Linked DNA regions of Homo sapiens: regions 1, 2, 3 and 4 are each linked to region 5. The links come from fine-mapping of genetic effects on gene expression. A gene starts in region 5. Each other region holds a variant in brackets. All regions are shown on one strand. Distances are from middle to middle.

Region 1 (5,103 bases), 52 kb before region 5:
AAGAGGAAAAAACAAAACAAAACAAAAAACCTCAATCTAAAAGAAAGCAATAAAGGGAAAGAAAGAGCCAAAAAGGTAAACGAATAGAAATTATAAAATAAGATAATTGAAATTCATCTATGTATATCAAGAAGTACAATGAATGAGAATGTATAAATATATCAGTTAAAAGACAAGAAATTTCAAACTAGATATTTTAAAAATTCGATTATATCCTGTTTATAAGGGACACATGTAAACAGAACAAAGGATATAAAAAGGATGAAATTACAGCATTGGGAAAGATACCTCAGAAAAATACCAAGCAAAAGTATGCAGGTAAATGGTGTTAATGAATAACAGACCAAAAAAAGAAAAAAAAAAAAAAAAAAGGCTTCCAGGCAAAAAGCCTTATTAGAAATAGAGGGTTATATAATCCCTTTACTATTAAGTACTGAAGGATGTAATTCTCAATTTGCCCACCTAATAACATAACCTCAGAACTGGCAGAGCTACAAAGGGAAATACATGAGGACAACTCTCACTAAATAGTAGACTGAACTGACAAAAAATTAGGAAGCAGATCAAAGATATCAATGGCACCATTAATAAACTTAATCTGATGAACATGTATGTAGAATATAGTCAACAACTGTAAAATATACTTTCTTTTTATGCGCACATTGACCATTAATATTGGTGTATGTCAGGCTCTAAGACTAGGCTCAGCAGCTTTCAAGGGATTGGTATCACAGACTATATTCTCTAACCAGAATGCAAAAAGACTAGAAATCAAAAAAACAGGAAAGTACTTATTTCCAGTAATTTAAAAAACACATATCAATGGTGAAGAGAAATCAAAATAGATATGTTTAGAAGCAAACAGTAAGAAATAGATTGCACATCAAAACTTACGAGATAAAGCCACAGCAGTACTTGAAGGAAATTTATAACCTTAAATATTTATATTAGAAAAGAAGAAAGGCTGCATTAAAAAGCTAAGCTTCAAATAAAGGAAGGAAATAATAAAGATAGGAACAGAAAGCTTCAAAACAGAACAAACATACAAGGGAGAGCTTGGGAGACATTACTATAAATTCTGTGGAGATTAAACCCATAATAAAGGAATAACATAAGCAACATTTTAACAATACATTTGAAAATTTAGATGAAATGGACAAATTATAAGTGTGGTAAGTCTAGATTGTATTTTTTATATTTAAAAAATTTGTAATATTCATTTTAACACATGCTTAAAATTAAAACGACATCATACTTAAAACAAAAAAAACCATACCATTTATAGGCAGAAAACCTTTGTTTTTTTAACTTCAAAACTCAGGTGACTGAGCATAAAAACTGTGGGTTTTTTCTTTTAACCCACAGCAGAGACAGGAAACCCCACCTAGGTGCATTAGGTGCCTCAAAAGGGTACAACGCTAGCAGGACTAAGCAGTTCAGATGCAGTCCAGAAACAGCAATCACTTGCTCCAAATAGAAAAATGAAGCTTCACTGACAGCTGACATCTGCACCATGCTTCACAGTATCTGAAGATTTTTTTTCCTATGTACATCAGCTATTTAAGTAGACACACATTTTCTTACATTTAAGATAAATAATAGTTAACGGCTACCACTTATTAGACATATATGTGTCAGGAACTGTCCTGGATGGCTTACATACGTTCTTTTCAAGCTTTACAGCACAACCAGATGCTGTAATCCCAGTTTTACAAATTAACAATCAGTAGACTGATTTGCTCATAGACTCACTCTTTTTTTTTTTTAGGTAAATAAATAATTATTGTTCATTTATTTGACTATGAAAGAAGAAAACAAACATTTATTGAGTGCCATTTATTTTTAAACTGTACAAGTCTGTGAGGTAAGTACGGCTACCTCTACTTTTATATAAAGGGAATTTACACAATTGGCTTAAGGTTGAAGAAATAGTGTCCAGGTTCAAAATCTGGTGTTCCTCATTCTGAAATCACATAGTCTGTATATTGGGCCACACATAAAAAGGAAAATAGTTTATCTTCTTCTCTCTTGCAAATAAGGACGGAGTTATTTTCTAGTGAGAAATAATTCTTATACACTTTGGTTACTGGAAACTTACTTTTTTCAGATGATGCATTAAATAAAGAAACCAGAGCTTAGCTTTACCTCTTTTGATATTGAAGTACATTAGCTGTGTCTCAAGGATAGGGGCTCCCATATATCCATGCTGCCTTAATAGGGGCTATAGTCTCAAGAGGATCTGTGCATTCTCTCCCATCACCCTACCTCTCACCTGAACTTTTGGAAAGATAATCTGGCCTGGAAGGAGAAGAAAATGGAGACAGAAATTTCCCCGGGTGAATTCTCACCATATAAGAAGTGAAT[C/T]TGTAAGTAGCATTTAACACTGTATTATATATTGCAGTTTTTAAATACATGTCTTATATCTCCTACTCTCCTATAAGCATCTGCTCATAGACTCACTCTTAACCACGTGGGTACAAGATGCAAACCCAAGTCTAGCTGATGCCTCCCTTCATCCATCCTTTTAAACAGGAGGGCTCCAGGCAGGAAGTTGTCCACAGAGCCACAGTGAGTTCAAAAGAGGCTCTGTCCAAGATCAGCCCACCACAGCTCATACAAAGCACCCACCTTCTGGATGATGTTTCGCAGAGCAAAATACTTCTCAGTGAGGTCCCCAGCCTCACTCAGTGGGGCATCATAGTCGTAGCTGGTGGGCTGTGCTGCATAGGGTGAGTTGGCCCCTAGAAGACAAAAATGTGCCACTAGTTATTACTGATGGTGCAGCTCTGGGACAAGTTCTTTGGGATCCATGAGCTCAGCACTGTAGAGAGAGAAAACTAGAAGACACATTAAAACCACTTGTTGGGAGACACAGACGTGACCCTCAGGATGCAACGTTTAGAGGAAGGAATTTCTTTCTACAGGTAGCAGTTACCAGGCACCTTAGAGTTTACCAAGGACTCTTTCCATCCACTCTCTACAGAAGCTCACAGCTGTGATTCTAGCAGGTATCACCCCCACTGGACAAGCAGGGAATCTGAAGCTCCCCACAAAAATCTGCTAACACCTCACAAGCAGTAATGGCAGGGCTTATGATATGACCCCCATCTCTGACTGTTAATCCTGTCAACTCTGAACTTTTTCACGTCCTCAAGCTGTGGCTGAGAAAAGCTCAGTGGTGAAGACACAGATGACTAGGCCATGGATCAGCAGAAAACCCAGGGCTTATTAAACCAAACACAGCGGGAGATGACAGCAGACCCACATCAGCCACAGAGGTTCAAACATAATCCGAGGGCCTTTGTTGCATCTACAAAGACTGTCGATGGGGCTGTGGTGCACCTCTTGGATCCCCCTTTAGAACCAGGGCACTCACTCATTCTCCCAGCAGCTAGGGCTGTTGTCTGCTGACATTTCTCAGATGTGTCCGTCTCTGGGTGCTGGCCTGTGCTGAGCTGCCTCACCCAAGGTTACAACCCTCAGGGATAGCCCACATCCAACAACTGACCAATGTGCCTCGAACAGCCAACCCAGCTGCAGAGCTCCCTCTAAGATTGGATGAGGCCACTTGTGAAGCTGCATCATAGCCCCACTTCTCCCTCTCTATCCTACAGGCATTGCTCCAGAGAGCACAATCAATAAGCTTTCTACCAGGTAATCTCAGAGTCTGTTTCCCTGGGAACTTGACCTACAACAAAGACCAATGGATAATGCCAACACTGAGTATACAAAAGGACTAGAAAAACAAATGCCCCTGCAGTCACTGTGCAAGGGGCGGGGTCTAGACCAGAGGATCCCGACCTTGTCAGGGATGATGTTCACAGGTATGAGGTTGTCTGCAACATTGGGTGGTACTTCAAAAACTTACCCATGCTTAAGTGTCACATGGAGAGCTTGTTAAAACAGATTCCTAAGCCCCATCCCAGAGATTCTAATTCAGCAGGTCTGGAGTGGGGCCTGAAACTGCATTTCTAACAGGTGTCCAGGTGACGCTGATGCTGCCATCCATAGACCAGCAAGGCTTTGTGCCTTCCTCCTCTACTTCAGAGAGCATATTGCAATGCAAGTGTGTGAGAATGAAGTTATTTTAGGAATAGTCTTTTGTCCAACCTAATTTGTACATCAATGAGGCACAAAACATGATAGTTTACCTAGGATTAGTAATAAATTCCTTGGATGCAGCTCACCAATGATGGAGCCACCTTGGGTGACCTACTGGTTGTGGAGGTGACAGATGAGCAAGGCTGAGGATCAGATCAAGCAGGTCAGCTCCAAAGACTTTTTCATTAGTTCTCTGCACAGAATCTAAACTTTGAAAGATCTGGACCACTCAACCAACTGAACTGATCTAGTCATACCATTTCCCCCATTTCTTATTAATCAGAGACAACTCACAGCCAACAGGTCTGCCTGCCTTAAGGGATTCATAGGTTAAAACACATCCCTTCCTGTGAGACACAAAGAAAAAAAAAAACCCACATCCGTTGCTGCAAGGAACTCACCTTCTTTGTGGCCCTCGTCTGCTTCTAATGTGGTAGTCACCCATGCTGTGCTGTGTTTCTTATTTGTTATGTCTCTCTCCATGCTACACTGCTTGCACCTCAGGGGCAGAGACTGTGCCTCACTTGCCCTTGAGTCCTTAGCCAGAGCCCAGCATGGAGGGGGTTGCCAGGTTGAGTTGGGAAAGTGTGACCTCTAGAAGCACACTTTACAGGCCGAGGGAGCCCAGGCTGGGAAGCTGTCCAGTGGGTTTAAGGATGGATTGGAAGACTAAGTATTTGTTCTAGTTCTACTGGCAGAATCTTACTTTGGGTGTTTTTAGACCACCAAAGGGCAGCATCGCAGAGAAATGGTGCAGATTCAAGCCTCCTCTGGCCACTTAAGAGGGTGTGAGGTGGGAAGGTGAAAGAAATGGTGAGACTTTGCATTCATCAACATTCCACATTGTGTGAGAAGTACAGGAGCGCCTGGACCCTGTAGGCAGCCATCACACAGCTGTGGACACACACAGGTGTGGAGGAAGGAGACACACACCTGCACAGGCAGGTGCATGTTCCTGTGGGTGGGATGGGCAGTGAACTCCCCACTCCTGATGCCTTTCTC
Region 2 (5,103 bases), 92 kb before region 5:
AAAAAGAAGTTTAACAAGCACATCAAATTTAGGATGAAAGTAGGGTCCAATAGTGTTAAGACCTGTGGGATATTGAACAGATGGCCCCAATTATTAGTGGGTCCCTCTATCAAGAAGTAGAATCTGTCTGGGCATGGTGGCTCACTCCTGTAATCCCAGCACTTTGGGAGGCCAAGGTGGGTGGATCACCTGAGGTCAGGAGTTCCAGACCAGCCTGGCCTACATGGTGAAACCCCATCTCTACTAAAAATACAAAAATCAGCCAGGTATGGTGGTGTGCACCTGTAATCCCAGCTACTCAGGAGGCTGAGGCAGGAGAATCGCTTGAACCTGGGAGGCGGAGGTTGCAATGAGCTGAGATCGTGTCGCTGCACTCCAGCTTGGGCAACAGAGTGAGACTCCATTTCAAAAAAAAAAAGGGGTAGAACATGTTTCTCCATTCCTTGGATCTGGCTGGTCTAGTGACATATTTTGGCCAAACAACGTGGAAGAAGTGACATGTGAATCCTGACTTTGGCCTTAAGGAGCCTTGCGCATTTGCATTCTTTCTTTGAACCCTGCTCAGTCGTGTGAACCCTGCTAGTCATGTGAACAAGCCTAGGCTAGCTTGCTGGATGATGAAAGAGAGATGGTCTCATCTTCTCTGTTGCCTCAGCTGACAGATGGCTAACACCCAGGTGGTCATGCCCAGCTGAGACCAGCAAAACCACTACTTGGTCTGCCAATACTCAAAATCGTGAACTAAATAAACTGTTGTCGTTTTAATCCACTAAGTTTTGGGTGGCTCGTTATGCAGCAGAAGCTAACTGATACACATCTCCATGGTCAGAAGGTGCCTAAGCATGCTACTTTTCAGGAAAGTGAGTGACGTTTAAAAACTCAATTTAAAAATAGTAGAGCCATCCACTACTTAGTCAGTCCCACTTTCACTGATCAATCACCAAATCCCACTGGGGCTTCCTCAGCCATGTCTGTGCCTTTCTCAGGATTGCTGAGAACAGCTGGGTGAGAAGACACCTGTGAGCACTCAGTACTGTAGCCAGCACATGGTAAGCTCTCAGATGTGGCTGGTACTATTACTATTTCCTGAAGCTGGACCGCCCTCCCTCCCTACTGCCACACTCAAGTCCAGCTCTGTTCCTTCTCTCTGGACCACTTCTCCAGCAGAAGAGTAGCTTTCAGGGGTAACAGGGAGAGAGTTCTGTTTTATACCTATCAGGCTGGAGGTGCCTATGAGACCCCCAAAGGTGGGCTCCAGAGCCTTGTAAGAGCTGAGCTGGAAAAGGAAATGTAAGCATGTCCAGCACATCTGTGAGGACAATCCCCAAAAGTGTAAGAAGAGAGCCCAGGACCAAGTCCTGAGGACTGCAACATAGAAGCTGACAGAGAAGCCTGAGAAGGAGCAAAGAGAGGGAAGAAAACCAGGAGAAGTTTGGGCACGCAAGTCAGGAGAAGCAATCCCCCCACCTCTCACCAAGTAGCTGGGACTGCAGGTGCCATCATGCCCTTGTAACTATCCTATGGTTATCTAGGGGCTCCATCCTAAGTCGCCTCATTAGCACAAACCCAGGTGGGATTGAAAGAGGCTAGTTATGAATAACAAAAGACACTCCTACCACTCAGAAAATTCCAAGGGTTTTAGGGCCCTGGAACCAGGGACAAAGACCAAATATATTTCTTACTATACTATTCCCTTGAAAAATATCAATCCCTCTGCACAAAATATCCTTCCCACTAGGAAGACCAGACCTTTCCCAGCAATCTTAAGCACTTATAATTTCTTCCTCTCCAAGGCCCAACTGCATGGTTTACATATCTCTTACAGACTCTTATAATCCTCTTGGGCTCTTTCTATACCTCTGTCTCTCCAAATGGATTGAGACCAAGTGACTAACACTGATAAGGTTTTAAAAGTTTTACATACTCTTTTCTGGCATAATCATGTCTCAGTGCAGCCTTGATTTGCTGGGCTCAAGCAATCCTCCCATCTCCCACCAAGTAGCTGGGACTACAGGTGCATGCCACCAAGCCCAGCTAATTCAAAAATTTTTTTTGTAGAGATGAGGTCTTATTAAGTTGCCTAGGCTGGTCTCAAACCCCTGAGCTCAAGTGATCCTACCACCTCGGTCTCCCAAAGGGCTAGGATTACAGGTGTGAGCCATCGCGTC[G/A]GCCAGGAAATTTCAAAAGCAAGATGCAACAAACAGTTAAAAGAAGGAATTTCTTTCAACCGTTTATCATACATTGTTTTATTTCATAGTTATTTTACATCTTGAAGGTGGGACAATTTATCTTTAAAATACAGAATTACTTTTCATCAGTATTCTATTTTGATTCTTGACTCTTCAAAGCATAATTTTGGTTAAGGAAAAATGGACACTATCCCACTCACACCATGCTCTGTCATGCACCTAAACCTACCACAAAATGTTGAAGGCTGCATAGGATATTGACAGGAGACTTATCCACACCCAGCTGAAAGAGAGATAAATAGCACAAGCACTGCTGCAGTGGCAGAACATGACATTTCAGGTTTGGCATATAGCAGGGGTCCCCAAACCCCAGGCCACAGACTGGTCTGCGGCCTGTTAGGAACCGGGCCGCACAGTGAGAGGTGAGCGAGCATTACTGCCTGAGCGCCACCTCCTGTCAGATCGGCAGCAGCATCAGATTCTCATAGGAGCAGGAACCCTATTGTGAACTGCGCACGCGAGGGATATAGGCTGTGCACTCCTTATGAGAATCTAACTAATGCCTGATGATTTGAGGTGGAACAGTTTCATCCCAAAACCATTTCCACCCCCCCACCCCTGACCACACAGTCCATGGAAACAGTGTCTTCCACGAAACTAGTCCCTGATACCAACAAGGTTGGGGACCACTGGCATACAGGACATATTGTGGAAAGCACTGGAGAAGAACGCTTCCTATCTAATGGACTTTCCAGTCAGATAAGAACTCAGTGAGGTCAAAGCATTGCCCTGTGTCTGCTGGACAGAGCAGAACATGCCTGACCCCTTTCTACTGAAGTCCCAGTTGATATTCATTCACATCTGGCATTAACCAGAAAGCCACATCCGACTCAAGTAAAGCCAGTGTAAACAAAAGTGATTTTTTAATCTTATGAATCGCCCTTATCAGTGACTTTGCTCTCTAAATCAAGGTAGTTTCTTTACAGTAAAATGAATAGGAAGAGCATAGAGTCCTGTGCCAGGGCCTTTGACAAGGGCCTCTCCTGATGAAGGATGTGGGGGTTAGTGCACAGCCTTAGAAACAGCTGGGGCTTCAGGGATCATTTTGTCCAACCCCACACCGCAACTGCCAGCTCCCTGCATTCAAACCATGTGCTAACGTGCTCATTCTTTCAAATGTCAGAGCTTAGCACTCAGTGTGGGAGTGGGATCTGCCTGTTCTGAGGTGGCTGATCATTTAGAAGCCCCAGAGCTGGCCTGGGACTGTCCCCAGCAGCAGGGACCACTGTGCACCAGAAAACAGAAACCACATTGGTTCTGTGTTAGGTAGGATGTGTGTGTACCCTTGGACCTTCACACGCATTCAGTCCAAAGTCCACAAACTTCTTGGATGGGCCTTGTGTGTGGCACTTTATTGACATAGAATTCATATACCATACAATTCAGCAGTCTTTAGTATACTACAGAGCTGCACAACCATTACCAAAGTCAATTATAGAACATTTCGTCACTCCGTTAAGAAGCCCTGTACCCTTTAACATTCTCTTCCCATCCAACCAACACTCTCTTTTCCCTGCTCTAGGCAATCACAGATCTTCCTGTCTATATGAATTTGCCTGTTCCGGACATTTCATGTAAATGGAATCATGCAACATACAGTCCTTTGTGACTGGCGTCTTTCATTAGCCTAATGTTTTCAAAATTCTTCCATGTTGTAACATGTATCAATACTTCATTTCTTTTTATTGCTGAATCATATTCCATTGTATGGATGTACTACATTTCGTTTATTCATTCCTCAGCTGATGGACATTTGGGCTGTTTCCACCTTTTGGCAATTATGGATAACGGTGCAATGAACAGTTGTGTACAAGTGTTTGAGTGGACATATGGATTAGATGGGCTTTTGGGGGTCTGAACCCTTTGACACATTCACAAATACTGTGTGGAGATGTACTTTCAAGCCTGGAGATGCAGAGCATTCATCAGACTGACCAAATAAGTAAAGAGCCCCAGCCTAGATAATGAGTATGAGTTCCTCACCGGTTCTCAATGCTGCCTGCTTTTTCACATGGGCCTTCAAGACACGGCTGGGGCTCAGGTAGATGTGCCACTGAGCACTTCTGTACCTCGTACAAGTTACTTAGCTATCTAAGCCTCCAGCTACTCATCTGCAAACTGGAGATAATGATCCATCTACCACAGGTGCCTCTTTTGATGGCTACGGAGATAGTGTCTATAAAGCGTTGAGCAGAACGCCTGGGTCAGTAACTCTTGCGTGTGACACCTTTAAGACTTGGCCAAGATGAACCTCCCTCTGACCTCCAACACATCCCACACTTTTCCATTGGTCTCTACTGCATTAGGAGGGGAGAAAAAGAGGGATCGAGGGAACAAGAACTTGCTAGCTAAAGGGGGAAGATCCAGGGAGGGCTTTCTTTGTGTTTAGGTCCTAGAGCTCCTAGTTACCACTTTTTGGCTGAAAAATGGGACTCGGCAGAAAGATGGAGAGGCTGACAAAATGCAGGTAGAGGAAATATGAGAACAGGATCTTGCCCTGAAGGAAGAAGGTGGGGAGGAGATTCAGAATTCAGACTTCCTCCTAGATACCACTGGGCAGGAAATGAGGTTGGAGGCAGAGAGATAAGTCTGACAGGAAGCTGAGGGAACAAAGGAGTTACACCTGATAGCAGTCAAGGAGGATGAGGTCTTCAGTGGAGAGGGTGGAGAGTCAGGTGGCTTAAGGAGGGTGCTGAAGGTTGAAAAGGCCAGTGGGGGAAAGGAGCAGAGAGAGACCAAGGACTGCTGGGCAAATCTGAGGGCTTCTGGAGGCTGGCAACAATGAGGGGATGGTAGCCACGATGAATGCGCTGAGAAGTCCCTTAGCTGTGCTCAGTGACTGGTGAACCAGCAG
Region 3 (5,103 bases), 46 kb after region 5:
CAAATACGTGGTCTCAGCTGGAGTCAAGCTTCGCCTGCTCCCATGGGGGACTCTGGAGCATGAATTGCACCACAGAGTTGTTCTTGCCTTTTGTAGTCCCCCTTATCAGTCTGTCATTCGTTCTTCGTTGCCAGGAAGGGCTGGTGTGTAACCTCCCTGTCAAGACTGCTGTTTTTTTTTGTTTTTGTTTTTGTTTTTGGCCAAAGGCAATTGCCCAGAGAAGGGGCAGCTGCTAGCCATTAGCAAGCAGCCCTCACAGGAGTTGGGGATGAGTGCACTGGGAAGGAGATCTGAGTGAGGCCCCAACAGTATTCACTACAACAGCCATGCAGGGGATGCATTTCTTTCGTCTGTGCTGCCTCGGGCACTTATTACTAGTGAGCTAAAAGCAAACAATACCATCATCCCGCAAGTCACAACAGACACACAGCAGGATATAGTAACTCCCTAAGCAGAAGTCATAGCTATACACATAATCCCTCTACTATGCTGTGTTTTCCTTTTGGGGTCTAGAAAGCAACTGAAAAACAATTTTTCCAAGCTGTAGTGTCTACAGTTTGAGTTTCTAATCTCAGGCATGACATAGTAGAAGTATTTGATGATAATACTAAGACCCCCCATTTGTGTCTCATGTACTTGATAGGTTTTCCAGTTATTCCCAAATGCTGCAAGATTTTTATAAATTTCTCTGTGTTAAAACATCAAAAGGAGCCAACAGGCTCTTGGCCTGGGATGGTGAGCTCAGTGAAGGAGGTCGAGTTTTAGCAGGGTTGGTGGGGCCAGTCTGTGTTGACTCTTATGGAAGGGGCCTCAGCCTTGGTCATTCACTCATTCTCTGCAGAAAAGAGAATGGGTGTCATCAGCTGGTGGTCCAGGAGGGTTATAGAAGAGAAGTCAATGTGGAGAAAGAAATTGGGAAGGGTGCTGGGCTGCTTCAAGTTGAAGTATAAGGCTGATTGCAGAAGGAGGGAGCAGGTGAGCTCCTGGTACCGACACTGGGCAAGTGGATCCCACTATCCCTGTGTGTCTCTCCTGTAAGAGGAGTGATTGCTTCAGTCACACCAGCAGTATGTATGCAAGCACTCAATCATTCATCCTTCAACACATGTATTGAGCACCTTCTGTGTGCTGGACTCTGGGGAAGAAAAATCAACCCAGTCCCCTGGTCCTTGAGAAGTTTGGGTTCTGGTGGTCAAGGCAGAAAGGGAACAGATAGAAAATGTTCCTGTGGGAGACCTGCACACATGAGAGGGGAGGAAGGGGAGTAGGCAGAGATGCACACAGGAGGGCCACTTAGTAGAGCTGTTCACAGGCTGGGCTGTCCGCCTCACACAGCATGTTGGCGGATCTCGCAGAGCACTTGATACCAAGTTCAAATGGAGTGGAAGCCGAGGTCCCCTCCACAGGGAGAAATCAGGTCCTCTGGGCCCCAGACCAGCAGAAAAAACCTGTTTCAGCCAAAGCAGACAGTGGTGATGGCCTCTCGGGATACTGTTTCTGCTCATCAGTACTTTTAAAAGTCCAATAGCCCATTTAATAAAGTTGTCCTGTTGTCTCTTACAGGGAGAAGTTGTGGAATATGTGGATGACCTCTTGGAACTGGAGGAGACCAGCTAGCCCACAGCAACCAAAGAGACTTCCTCTTGGCGTTCAGGAAACACAGATTCTTTGTCCTTTTCCCAACAGCCCAGGCTGTTGATACCTCAGAGCCTTCTCTTTACTCTCCAAAGTGAAAGGGAAGCCCCCGTCTCTCTAACTGCATGTCATCAGGGGTGAGCCTGCCTTTCCTATCTTCACACCTGCCACCTCATGTTCACACCTATCTTTCTCACCTTTTTTTTGAGATGGAGTCTCGCTCTCTTGCCCAGGCTGGAGTGCAATGGCACGTTCTCAGCTCACTGCAACCTCCGCCTCTTGGGTTCAAGCAATTCTGCTGCATCAGCCTCCCGAGTACCTGGGATTACAGGCATGTGCCACCACGCCCGGCTAATTTTGTATTTTTAGTAGAGACGGGGTTTTGCCATGTTGGCCAGGCTGGTCTCGAACTCTTGACTTCAGATGATCCATCTGCCTTGGCCTCCCACAGTGCTGGGATTACAGGCGTGAGCCACCATGCCCGGCCTCTTTCTCACCTTTACACCTGTCTTCTTATCCTCACATCTGTTTTCACACCTTCATCCCTGTCTTCCTCATGTTCACACTTGTCTTCCCCATGTTCATAGCTGCCTTTCTTACCATTTTGGTTTGAAGGGCAGTCTTCTCTGGCTTGTTTTTTTGTTTTTCCCAGAAAATCAGTATTATTTTTTAAATAAGAAAAACATTCCTAGAAGATGATAATTGTGAAAACCTCCTTTGGCTTATTTGCTTTTCCAGATTTTAGTCTCCTTTCTCCCCATCCGGGAAAGATGGTGGAAGACATAGGCTAAATTTCTCCAGCCTCACAATGGTCTTCACTTGGTCTGACTTGTACCAATTCTAGCACCCACTGAAAAACAAGTTGAGTAGAGAGTGTAGAGTGCAGAAATGTGGCTTTTGCCCCACTTTGCATCTCCAAAATTACAACGGTTGGCCGATCCCATTTGAGGACAATGCTTAGTTATAAGTCTCCGAGTTGGAAAAGGAAGAAAGCCAGAGCTGTCTAGTTTCATTCATTCTTTCAGTAAATATTTATTGAGTACCTACTGTGTGCTAGGCATTGACCTGGGAACTAGAGATACTTCACAGAATAACAGGGAAAGTTCCCTGTGCTCATGGAGCTTACATTCTACAGGGAGAAAGAGATAGCCAATACATAGGAATAAATATATACAAGGTATCATGTAGTGATAATTGCTGTGGAGAAAAATAAAGCAGGGGAGGGAGTAAGAAATCCTGGAGATGAGGCTGCAGTTTTAAATGGGGCCTCACTGGGAATGTGACGTTGAGCAGAGACGTTAGGGAAGTGGATCCTGGACAAGGCATTCCAGGCAGAGGAACAGGATGTGCACTGCCCCAAAGTGAGAACTTGCTCTACGTGGTCAGGAAAGAGCAGGGAGACCAAGCAGAGTCGTGGGCAGGGGTAGAATGGAAGGAGAGGCGGCTGG[G/A]GAGGACAGGTGGTGGAGGGCCTTGGCTTCTGCTAAGTGAGATGGGAACCACTGGAGGGTTTGAACAGAGGAGTGCCTTGATTGATTTATATTTTGCAAGGGTCATTCTAGCTGCCATATTGTGAAAAACTTTAGTGGACAAGGGCAGAAGGAAGAGGGAAGACCTGTTAGGAAGCTACTGCAAGGTTCCAGGCTTGGGCCTGGGCCACAGCAACAGCAGTGGTCAAATATCTAGATTTATTTTGAAAAGAGCCAATAGGATTTGCTGAGAGTTTGAATGTGGAGTGTAAGAGAAGGAAGAGTTAATGATGACATTAAGGTTTTTGGCCTGAATAGCAGGAAAGATGGAGTTACCAGTTACTGAAATAGGGAAGGATGGGCTGGGTAAGTATGGAATTTGGTGCAAAGCAGGCTGTCTGTGGTTGGAATGGGAGGTTCTGGCTGCAAATCAAAGTGGAGAGTTCTCTCAGGTCAGGTCTGCAGCAGAGCTCGAGACAGGGATCTGAATGCACTTGGTTTATTGTTGGGGGTGCTCTCAGAAGGAACCTGTGAAAGCCTTTATCAGTCATTTATTGGCTGTGAGAAGTTCTCTGGGAGTGTGGGTACATTTGAAGGCAAGTGACTTCAGTTGAGGGCAAGTCTCTGGAAAAGAGGCTGTAGGCATCTGGCAGCTACCATGCATGGTAGTGTGTTGGGGGTGGGGGTCCTGGGCACTGGCTGTGTGAAGGGATCTGGCAGGGCACCACAGCGCCCCCTACTGAACCATCAGCATGTCAGTGGCATTTAAAGCCATGCAGCTGGAGGGGCCACTGAGATTGTCTCTGAGTATTACTGAGAAGCAACAGAAAAGAGCCATGGATGGAGCCCTTGGGCTCTCTGGGAAATGGGAAATCAGCCAAAGGACTGAGAAGGAGTTACCTTAAGGTCAGAGAAAACCAAGAGAGTGTGGTGTTCTGGAAGCTGAGCTTTCTTTATTCAACCTCATTCCCTTCTCCAAATAAGCCACTTGTGTAGTTGGGCCCCTCCAGGGTTGAAGGCAAGAGGAGAAAGGCACAGCGTTTGGGAAACAAGACTTTTCCTGCAATAGCCTGGGAAGGAATAAAAGGATAGAGTGTTTGGGTTTTTGTGTAATGGTGGTTAATTGGGGTGGAACACTCACACGTTGTGCTTTTTCTGGGCTTCCCTTATCCCCCAGAACACTCTACCAACCTCGGGGAACTCGGGCACATCCTTCTGTTTCTCCTTCAGCTCTATCCTGCTTTCCTCATCCCTTCTGACACCACGTCCTCACTCACCTGCACAAGAATCCCTGCATCAGGTTCTCCTTTGAGGGTACCCACCCAGGACAGTCCCCTACCACTTCTGTCTTGGGCTGAAGTTGCCCACGTCCACAAAATCTGTACTCCCAGCGGGGGTGTTTGGCCCGAGGAGTCAGTGTTATTACTGGTGGATGCACCGTGTCCACAGCAGCCCCCAATCCCAGCGATGCGTCAGATCTTACGTGGCTTCCTGCTGGGGGAGATGGCCTTCACCCACGGGATGCCGGGTTCTCCTTTCTTTCCTCACCCCAACCTTTACTCCACCAGAGAAACTTCCTTTTGAACTCAGTGGGGAAGAGGGTGATGAGACAGGACTAGAAAGTAGTGGGGGACCCAGCGAGTGGACGCCCTGCTCCGGGATTCCTGAGTCTGTAAATAGTGTGCCCAGCAGCTGTGAACTCCCCTTATAGCCTCAGGCTGCAGTGTCCTTCCCAGCTGTGTGAGAAAATGAAAGCCGACGTCCACAGGGACCCAGGCAGGGTTGGGTGTTGTGACTCACTCCACCTCTGTGCCCTGCAGAGGTACTGTTGGGTCCTTGTCTTGTGAGCCTGGGGTGAGCTCTCTGTACATGTTGTTGTTCCACGTATGGGTTGACTTGGCATGCTGGGGGGTCCTCGTTCACTCTCTGAAGTTGGCCTCCTTTCACTGGGGATTGAAAAGCACCTCCACCCCTACCCTAGTGATGTCCCCTGAGGACCCGG
Region 4 (5,103 bases), 890 kb after region 5:
GTCAGACACTAGGATTGCAACTTCTGCTTTTTTTTTGCTTTCCATTTGCTTGGTAAATTTTCCTCCATCCCTTTATTTTGAGCCTATGTGTGTCTTTGCACATGAGATGGGTCTCCTGAATACAGCACACTGGTGGGTCTTGACTCTTTATCCAATTTGCCTGTGTCTTTTAATTGGGGCATTTAGCCCATGTACATTTAAGGTTAGTATTGTTATGTGTGAATTTGATCCTGTCATCATGATGCTATCTACACACTAGTTGATGAAGCTTCTTCATAGTGTCATTGATCTTTATATTTTGGTGTGTTTTTGCGGTGGCTGGCATTGGGTTTTCCTTTCCATATTTAGTGCTTCCTTCAGGAGCTCTTTCAAAGCAGGCCTGGTGATGATGAAATCCCTCAGCATTTGCTTGTCTGGAAACGATTTTATTTCTCCTTTGCCTATGAAGCTTAGTTTGGCTGGATGTGAAATTCTGGGTAGAAAATTCTTTTCATTAAGAATGTTGAAGCCGGGCGCAGTGGCTCACGCTTGTAATCCCAGCACTTTGGGAGGCCGAGGTGGGCGGATCACGAGGTCAGGAGATTGAGACCATGGTGAAACCCTGTCTCTCCTAAAAATACAAAAAATTAGCCGGGCATGGTGGCGGGTGCCTGTAGTCCCAGCTACTTGGAGAGGCTGAGGCAGGAGAATGGCATGAACCCAGGAGGCGGAGCTTGCAGTGAGCCGAGATTGCGCCACTGCACTCCAGCCTGGGCGACAGAGCGAGACTCCATCTCAAAGAAAAAAAAAAAAGAATGTTGAATATTGGCCCCCAATCTCTTCTGGCTTGGGCTTGTAGGGTTTCTGCTAAGATATTTGCTATTAGTCTGGTGGGCTTCCCTTTGCAGGTGACCTGGCCTTTCTCTCTGGCTTCCCTTAACATTTTTTCTCATCATTTTGACCTTGGTGAATCTGGGGATTATGTGTCCTGGGGTTAATCTTCTCATGGAGTCTCTTAGTGGTGTTCTCTGTATTTCCTGAATTTGCATGTTGGCCTCTCTTGCTAGGTGGGAGAAGTTTTCTTGGATAACATCTTGAAGTGTGTTTTCCAGCTTTTTTCCATTCTCCCCATCTTCTTCAGGTACTCCTATCAATCATAGGTTTGATCTTTTTACATAGTCTCATATTTCTTGGAGGCTTTGTCATTCCTTTTCATTCTTTTTTCTCTAATCTTATCTGCATGCCTTATTTCAGCAAGGTTGTCTTCAAACTCTGATATCCTTTCTTTCACTTGGTCAATTCGACTGTTGATACTTATGTATGCTTCACAAAGTTCTCGTGCTGTGTTTTTCACCTCCATCAGGTCATTTGTGTTCCTCTCTAAACTGGTTACTCTAAGTAGCAGCTCCTGTAACCTTTTATTAACGTTCTCAGATTCTTTGCATTGGGTTAGAACATGCTCCTTTAGCTCAGCAGAGTTTTTTTATTACCCATCTTCTGAAGCCTGCTTCTGTCAATCTGTCCATCTCATCCTCCATCCAGTTCTGTGCCCTTGCTGGAGAGGCATTGCGATCATTTGGAGGAGAAGAGGCACTTTGGGTCTTCAGCATTTTTTAATTGATTCTTTCTCATCTTCATGAGTTTGTCTAGTTTTGATCTTTGAGGCTTCTGACCCTTGGTTGGAGTTTTTGTGGGGACTTTTTTTGTTGTTGATGCTGTTGTTGCTTTCTGTTTGTTTTTCTTTCAATGGTCAGGTCCTTCTTCTATAGGGCTGCTGTGGTTTGCTGGGGGTTCATTTCGGGCCCTATTCATCTGGTTGGCTCCTGTGCCTGGAAATGTCACTCAAGGAGGCTGGAAAGCAGCAAAGATGGGTGCCTGCTTCTTCTTCTGGGATCTCTGACCTCGAGAGGCACCAACCTAATGCCAGTAGGATCACTCCTGTGTAGGGTGTCTGACAACTCCTGTTGGAGGGTCTCAGCCAGTTGGGTGGCATGGGGAAGAGGACTTGTTTAATGAAGCACTTTGACTGTCCTTGGAGAGGGTGTGCTTTGTTGGGCGGGGGAGCCCACTCATCTGGGCTGCCCGGATTCCTCAGAACTACCAGGAGGAAAGGCTAAGTCTACTGGTCCGCAGAGACTGCAGCCACCCCTCCCTCTAGGGGCTCAGGCCCAGGGAGATGAGGGTTCTGTCCCTGAGCCTCTGGCTAGAGTTGGAGTTCTTGCAGGGAGGCCCTGCCCAGTGAGGAAGGATGGGTCCGGGTCAGGCCTGAAGAGGTGCTCTGGCTACAGTCTGCACAGTGGTGTGTTGGGCTGTGGGGGACATCTCTTGGGACTAAGCAGTCCAGCTTCCCTGGCTCCAGCAGGGGAAAAGTGTGGCCTGGAACTATAGAGATGGATGCCGCCCTTCCCCCACCCAGGGAGCTTAGTGTGTTAGGCAGTTCTGAGTCTCAGTGCTGGCTGCTGCCCCTCCCACAAAGGAGCTCAAAGGGCTTAGAGAACAGGTAGCTGCAGCTGTGGTGCTGGTCGCCCCTTCCCCTGGGAACTCAGCAGGCTTAAGCAGATTCTAGCTGAGTGGCTGTTGAGAATCTGCATGGCTTTGGGGTTGGG[A/T]CCCAAGGCCCCGGTGGCGTGGGTTTGCGAGTGGGATCTTCTGATTCGTGGGTTGCACAGTTTTGTGGAAAAAGCACTGTTTCCCCAGCTGGGTAGCATGCTCACTCACTGCCTCCCTTGGCTGGGGGGGTGGGGGCTCCTTTGCCCCAAGTGGCTCTCAGGTGGGCTGCTGCACCACACTGCTCTTCCTTCTTCTCCGTGGATCATGCCAGCCACCTAGTCAGTTCTGATGAGAACCTGGATACTTTGGTTGTTGGTGCAGGATTCACATGGTATTATAGTTCTTTTCAAATGGAGCCTATGATCGCTGCTGCTTCTAGTTGGCCATCTTGGCCCCGTCCCCACTCTTTTCCCTCTGTTTGTCCATTGCTGTAATTTCTGGGAGGTTTTCTCAACTTCACTTTCCAAGACTTCTATTGGGGTTTTCATTTCTGTTGTATTATTAATTTCCAAAGGGCTCTGTTTTTCTTCTTTGAATATTTTAAAATACATTCTTTTCTTTTTAATACATATAGTATTTTCTCTGAAGATATTAATGATAGTTTTTAAAAGAGTTTATCTTCTTGCATAGTCTCTACTTTCTCTAATTTTTCCCCTGCATGTTTGTTGTCTTTTTTATTATTCATGTTACAAGCTTTCCTCACAAGGTATCTTGTTAACTTGATCATCTGCTGATAATTAAGAAGAGCATCAAAAAGCTCATTAAAAAAATTCAGATCATATGAGGGGAATATTTTGGGGAATATGGAATCCCTTATAATAGACTTGCTTACTCTGCCTGCTTGGGAATCTCTCCCAAGTGGTACCTGCTTTCCACAGATTCCCTCCTTTCCCCATTTCTGAATCACAGATTATATGCCCCAGATTGTTTTTCAGCAGTTCCAAGATTTTAAAAATTGTTTCTCTTTTGAGAAATTGGTGAATGAAAGCAGCCAGATGCTCCCTGACCACCAAAAGAGTACATACTGTAGGATTCTATTTATATAAAATTCTAGAAAAAGCAAACTAATCCATAGTGTTAGAAAACAGATTAGCAGTTGTCCAATGTCAGGGGAGGAGGAAGAAATGGATTCCAAAAGGGCCTGAGGAAACTATTAGGAGTGATAGAAATGTTCATTGTCTTGATTTTGGTAAAAGCTTAATGAGTATATACATCTGTGAGAACTCATTACATTGTACACTTTAAATATGTGCAGTTTATTGTATATCAATTATACCACAATTAAGTTGTAACAAAAAGAAAGAGAAAAAAAGCTCATTTGAAGTTCTATGTTGCCATTCATGGGTTTCACCATAGTTTGAAGATTGTACCATTTCACTGGGGAAATCCTGATGGCAGTATCTTTAGACCTTCTCTATTAGACTGGCTAGAATCTTGAGAAGGGGTTTAGGTCCGCTGGTTGAAGGATTCAGCTTGACTGACAGTACCCTGGAATGTAAGGTGGGCTGGAGTCTGGGAAAGGGAGAAGAGATTGAATTTCCACATTTAATGAAGGCTTTTTAGTTAATGCTCATGTTTTTGGTACAGTAAGTTTGTCCCTCAATTGTTTCTGGTTTCTCCAATCCAGAGATTTCCACTTTTATCCTCTTTGGAGGATTGATTCTTAATGTATGGTTTGTGGACCCCTAGGGGGTCCCTGAGACTTTTTCAGGGGGTCAGCAAGATGATAGCTGTTTTTATAATAACACCAAGACTGTATTTGCCCCTTCCATTCTCATTCAGGTGTGTACAGTGAAGTTTTTCAGAGGCTACATGATGTGTGATATCATAAGAGATTGAATGCAGAAGCAGACAGTAGATTGGCTATCTTCTATTAAGCCAGTTATTAATGAGATTTGAAAAATATAAAATAATGCCACTCTTCTAGCTAAAGTTTTTCTGATTTGGAAAATAAAGTTGTTTTTCAGAAAATATTTATGTTAATGTGGAATGGGTTTATTATTTTTATTTTTGAAGTGAATTAATAAATGAATATTTTAAATACTTCAGTTTTAATTTATCCTATGACAAATATCAGTATTTGTAATCATCATAAACTAAAGCTCTTTGGGGTCCTCAGTGATTCTGAAGACTGTAAAATAGGCCTGAGACTAAAAATTTGAGAACTGTTGCTCTAAAGTATAAACATCCAGAGTTGGGTGAGGGTGGATATAGTCTCCAGGTTAGATGAAATTGGGGAGGGATCCAAGGGCTCTAACTTCTTTTTGAACAAGAAACCCTTTGCTTCTTTTCTCTCCTTTATCCCTTTCTCTCAGAGGTTCCTGATAGCATAGATAGCAAAGCCGAGAGGCAGACAGAGCTTGTGTCCCTGAAGACATTAAGCTGATGAATCAGCCAGCTCTGAAGGCTGATCTACCTCTGGAGATGCTTCCTGTTATACAAGATAATACATTTTGTTTGGTTGAGGTGGTTGTTAATTTCAGCTGAAAACATAATGGAAGCCAAGAAGGGAGTGTGTTTCAGGAAGCTGGGACTGAAGTCTTCTTTGTTGTTGATGAAGACTAAAAGTTTTCCTGG
Region 5 (5,103 bases):
TGCCACTGCACTCCAGCCTGGGCAAAAGAGCGAGACTCTGTCTCAAAAAAAAAAAAAAAAAAAAAAAAAGGAATATTCTCTTAATTTCTAGGACAGCTAAAATTTAGTTAAAATTTGAGAACCGCTGGGTCACGAGGTCAGGAGATCGAGACCATCCTGGCTAACATGGTGAAACCCCGTCTCTACTAAAAATACAAAAAAAGAAAAAAATTAGTCGGGTGTGATGGCGGGCGCCTGTAGTCCCAGCTACTCGGGAGGCTGAGGCAGGAGAATGGCGTGAACCCTAAAGAAATGTAAACAAGGAGATAATGGAAAGCTAGACTGCTGGTATCTTTCTTTAGCTGTGGGCACAGAAGCCCAAGAGGGACACCTAGGCACCTGAAATGAGAATTCCTGGGGTGATGCCAGCCTCCCTGTGTGGGCCTCAGGTATGGCAGCCACAGGGCATCCACCCTGACCCAATGACGCTGCACAAGACTGATGAGCTCACATCAGACAGATTGACCCTGTCCACCTGTTCCTGGTTCATAAATCCTTCTCTCTCTCCCTACCCCCACTCCCAGATACTGGTTAAGATCTGCCTTTCCCCTAGCCCCTTACCCTGCCACTGTTCTCCTGAACTGTGCCCCAGTTCCACCTTCCCCAGTGGTTCTCACAGCTGGCTAGCTCTGACTCCTAAGGTCCTACGGGCCTTCTGGACAAGAAAACTCTGTCTACATACTGGGGTAGGGGAACCACAGACGGGGTGAAGAGGGAGCAGCAAATAATCTGTGCTGACTTTTTCCCAAAATGAAAACATTTTCAGCAGCTGTTTTCCAAATACTTAAGATGTTCAATCTTGGTTGTAGATAAATGTACCACTTTTCTCTGCCCTAGGCACGTTATTGAAAGCGTTATTAAAGGGTGTAACTTACAAGTCAACGGTGTCAAATGCTACCAGCTCTTACTTAAAGCATACTGCAGGCTCAGCCCACCTACACCCTGGAGGAACCAAAGTTGGTCCGCGGAACGTGCAGAGGAGCAGCTTGCAACTACCCACTCTCCTTTCCGCAGGTGTGATGCAAACCTCCCCAGGCAGCGCTTTGGAGCCCCTCAGCCAGTCGCCTCAGCTCGGACGCAGCGAGTGAAGCTGTCCTTCCTCTCCCACCAACTGTGCACGCCCCGCACCTCACCTATTCGCCTCGCCAGCCCTGCCCCGATCAACGATGGCATCCCCCGGCAGCCTGCCTATTCCCCCCCTCAACCTGGACCCCCAAACGCCGAAGGAAAACGGTCCCACAAATACAAAGAAAAACCCAAGCCAAAGGGCAGGCGACGGGGAGTGGTGAGAAAGGAACAAGATGCACGAAGAGGGAGAGCACCCAGAGGGGAAATAACCCAATGTTCCCACTGCAAGGGCCTCTCCTGACCCCATTTTTCTCCTTCCGGAGCGCTCCGCAGAGCACCAACTGGGAAAGCGAGGGCGCCCCAAACCAGAGCCGGAGGCACCCTCTAACCCGCGCAACTTGGAATCCCCTCCCGGAAAGCCAACTTAGGAAATGTTTACACGCACCTCGTCTCAACACCTCGTTACAGATGGGGAAGTGGATCCAAGCGCAAAGGGCGGCCGGAGCGGAACGCACAAGCGACCGAGCTGCCTGGAAGGACGCGCGCCCCGCCCGGCCCGCCCCCGACGGGAAGGCCGGTCCACTGCCTGCGTTCCGCCGGCCGCGAGCCTGCTGGGGGGCACTTCGGGGCTCAGGCTCCCCGCCCTGCGGGACCGCGGGTGGCTGCGACCCCAGCCCGGTTCCCCGCCAGCCTGTCCCCTAGCAATGCCTCCCCGTACCCGGGTCCCGCAGACTTACGCGCAAGCCGCGCGTAGGGCCCAGAAGCAGCAGAACCAGCAACAGAGGGAGGATGCGAACCAGGAACCCCGGCATGACCACCAGCCTCCCGGCTCTGCAGTCGGCGCCCAGGCCGGCCGCTTCGCGTCACTTGACTAAGGACCCACGGCCTGGCACCGCCCCTCGTCGGCCCAGCAGCCAGCCCTCGCGCCTGCTCAGCCCCGCGCCCCGCCCCGCTGTGGCCGAGCCGGGCGGGTGGGGGCGGCTAGGAGGCTGCGCGCCGCCGCGTGACTCCAGGATAGTACTATCTGGGTTTTGCAGGCGTCTTCCCTGGGAAGGGACCCTTTGGAACTGCAGTCCGGAGGGCCTGCTTTCAGCAGCTTGATAACGCGCCTCGGGGATTGGACATGAATCATGGTCTCCCTGTTCCCTGGCTGCCTTGAGAGAGCAGAAGAGGGAAATTGTTAATCATTAAACCTAAACGCCCTAGATGGAATCCGCGTCTCATATACGGGCTCTTTGAATAACTCTAAGCCGGGGGTTAGCAAAATGTGGTCGGTCCCTGGAGCCACTGTATCAACTCACCTGGAACTTGTTAGAATGAAAATCCTGCTCACGCCTGTAATCCCAGCACTTTGGGAGGCCGAGGCGGGCGGATCGCCTGAGGTCAGGAGTTCCAGACCAGCCTGACCAGTATGATGAAACCCCGTCTCTACTAAAAATACAAAAATTAGCCGGGCGTGGTGGCAGGCGCCTGTAATCCCAGCTACTGAGGAGGCTGAGACAGGAGAATCGCTTGAACCCGGGAGGTGGAGGTTGCAGTAAACCGAGATCGAGCCATTGCGCTCCAGCCTGGGCAATAAGAGCGAAATTCCGTATCAAAAAAAAATTTTCTTTTTTAAAATAACCTTAGTTTATGCCTTGGTGTTCCAAAAAGCCTTTTTACATTGTATAACAAAGTAGCCAAAATTCTATTTGTTCACTCCTTTCTCCTTTCCTACCGGACATGTCCTTGAGAGATTGAGAAAGTATCAGAAAGGACATTTCATTGAGAGATTGAGAAAGTATCAGTTACTGGCTTTTCTTAGGTTTTTGTTTTTTGGTTTGGGGGGTTGTTTTTTTGTTTTGTTTTTGTGTTTTTTGAGACAGGGTCTCACTCTGTCACCCAGGCTGGAGTGGGGCGCAATCACGGCTTACTGCAGCTTTGGCCTCCTGGGCTCAAGCAATTCTCCCGTCTCAGCCTACCAAGTGGCTGGGACTACAGGCGTGCGCCACCACACCCGGCTAATTTTTGTATTTTTTGTAGAGACAGGGTCTCACCACGTTTCCCAGGCAGGTCTTGAAGTTCTGGGATCAAGCAATCTACCTGCCTGGAACTCCCAAAATGCTGGAATTACAGACATGAGCCACCGTGCCTGGCTTCTTTTCATGCCTGTAGTACCAATTCCGTGTCCTTGCACTGTGAAGTCCTTTCCAAGCTCTGCAATTCTAGTTCAGTATTAAAGAACAAGGGCTCTGGAGGAAGTACACTTGAGTTGGAATTCCAGCTCTGCCACTTACTGTCTGTGTAACTGTGGGCAAATTACTTAACCTCTCTGAGCTTAGTTTCTTTGTTGGTAAAGCAGGGCTAATAATATCAAATTCACTGGATAATTGGGGAAATTACCAGAGATGATGACGATAAGAAGCTTGGTATATACAGGATGTTAGTGGGACAGTTGATGAAATCAGAATTAGACTTGTAGGTTAGATTAGTACCATGCATCAATGTTAATTTCCTTTTTGGGGGGGTGGGGGGACAGAGTCTCACTCTGTCACCCAGGCTGGAGTGCAGTGGCACAATCTCGGCTCACTGCAACCTCCGCCTCCCAGGTTCAAGTGATTCTCCCACCTCAGCCTCCAAAGTAGCTGGGATTACAGGCACCCACCACTAGGCTTGGCTAATTTTTGTATTTTTAGTAGAGATGGGGTATCACCATGTTAGCCAGGCTGGTCTGGAGCTCTTGACCTCAAGTGATTTGCCCACCTCGGCCTCCCAAAGTGCTGGGATTACAGGCATGAGCCACTGTGCCCGGCCGCATCAATGTTAACTTTCTGATTTTGATAATGGTACACGGTCTAAATATTAAATAATAGTTTTGTATTAGTGTATTGATTTGGGTAACGGTAATGGTAATTTTGGTAATGGTTATATAAAAGAACATCCTTGTTTTTTAGGAAACAAAAGGGCATCATCTTTGCAACTGATTCTCAAACAGTTCACAAAAAAAAATGGAGAGAGAGAGAAAGAGAGAGAGAGAGAGGGAGAGAAATGGTATTCCAGGCATGAAAAGAACGTGAGAAAGAAAAGCAAATGTGGTAAAATGTTAACATTTGGAAAATCAATGAAGGAATTATTTTTACTCTTTTTTTCAACTTTTTGTTTCTAAGCCTGAAATTATTGCAGAACGAAGTTTAAAAACAAAACAAAACAAAAATCCTTAACACATGGCAGATTCAACTTCTTCTACCTTCTTTCCTACTCTGTACACTCAGGGTTATCATATGCAATAGGTATTTTTAACTGAACTGAGGTAGAAAGGGTTTAGAGCAGGAGTTGGCAAACTAAGGGCAGAGGATCAAATCTGGCCTGCTGCCTGTTTTTCTTTTTCTTTTTAAAATTCTTTTTACTAAGAATCGGCACAATTTGCTGCCAGTTTTTCTATGGCCTGCCACCTAAAAATGGTTTTTACATTTTTAAATGAATGAAAAAAAATCAAAAGAATAATATTTTATGACATTTGAAAATGTTGTAAGTTTCCTGTGTCAGTGTCCATAAATAAAGTTTTGTGGGGTTGGTTTTTGTTTTTTTTGTTTTGTTTTGTTTTTTTAGACACAGTCTTGCTCTGTCACCCAGGCTGGAGTGCAGTGGTGCAATCATAGCTCACAGCAGCCTTGAACTCCTGAGCTGAAGCAGTCGTCCCATGTCGGCCTCCTGAGTAGCTAAGTAGCTGGGACTACAGGCGAGTGCCACCATGCCTGAATAATTTTTTTTTTTCTAAAGACAAGATCTTGCCTTGTTGCCAGGGTTGGTCTTGAACTCCTGGCCTCAAGTAATCTGCCCACTTTGGCTGCCAAAGTGCCAAGATTACACATAAATAGTTTTCTTAGAACACAGCCACCTATAATCCTCTGCATATTGCATATGGTTGCTTTCACGCTACAACGGTAGAATGGAGTAGTTGCAACACAGATCTTAGGACCTACAAAACTGAATATATTTATGTTCTAGCCCTTTACA

Alleles and levels. Alleles are on the strand shown, and positions count from the first base shown. SD is a standard deviation of normalised expression in the study named. Not every link is listed here.
As copies of A replace G in region 3, the expression in neutrophils of the gene that starts at base 1,980 in region 5 goes down (moderate effect, 0.49 SD a copy in BLUEPRINT).

The links. PIP is the estimated chance that this variant, and not a neighbour inherited with it, causes the effect. A credible set is the group of variants that fine-mapping cannot tell apart.
Region 1: its variant is the best candidate, but not a certain one, in a credible set for the expression of GLB1 in whole blood (INTERVAL, PIP 0.57).
Region 2: its variant is the best candidate, but not a certain one, in a credible set for the expression of GLB1 in fibroblasts (GTEx, PIP 0.54).
Region 3: its variant is the best candidate, but not a certain one, in a credible set for the expression of GLB1 in neutrophils (BLUEPRINT, PIP 0.69).
Region 4: its variant is the best candidate, but not a certain one, in a credible set for the expression of GLB1 in monocytes (Quach 2016, PIP 0.56).

The regions. Positions count from the first base shown.
Region 1 is chr3:33,043,492-33,048,594 of GRCh38, forward strand. It overlaps GLB1 (galactosidase beta 1), which reads right to left. Exons shown (of 16, transcript NM_000404.4): 10 at 2,629-2,741. Among named protein-coding and RNA genes, the nearest start is that of GLB1, 51 kb to the right of the region's middle. The variant C/T (reference allele first, on the strand shown) is at 2,365.
Region 2 is chr3:33,003,623-33,008,725 of GRCh38, forward strand. The region is part of intron 15 of GLB1 (galactosidase beta 1); the gene reads right to left. Among named protein-coding and RNA genes, the nearest start is that of CCR4, 55 kb to the left of the region's middle. The variant G/A (reference allele first, on the strand shown) is at 2,169.
Region 3 is chr3:33,140,832-33,145,934 of GRCh38, forward strand. It overlaps CRTAP (cartilage associated protein), which reads left to right. Exons shown (of 7, transcript NM_006371.5): 7 at 1,564-5,103. The coding sequence ends at 1,617. Among named protein-coding and RNA genes, the nearest start is that of CRTAP, 29 kb to the left of the region's middle. The variant G/A (reference allele first, on the strand shown) is at 3,084.
Region 4 is chr3:33,986,976-33,992,078 of GRCh38, forward strand. No RefSeq gene overlaps it. Among named protein-coding and RNA genes, the nearest start is that of LINC01811, 170 kb to the right of the region's middle. RefSeq lists an enhancer at 1,717-2,319. The variant A/T (reference allele first, on the strand shown) is at 2,586.
Region 5 is chr3:33,095,167-33,100,269 of GRCh38, forward strand. It overlaps GLB1 (galactosidase beta 1), which reads right to left and starts at 1,980. Exons shown (of 16, transcript NM_000404.4): 1 at 1,845-1,980. The coding sequence starts at 1,919. It overlaps TMPPE (transmembrane protein with metallophosphoesterase domain), which reads right to left and starts at 1,980. Exons shown (of 2, transcript NM_001039770.3): 1 at 1,553-1,980. RefSeq lists a silencer at 1,568-2,177.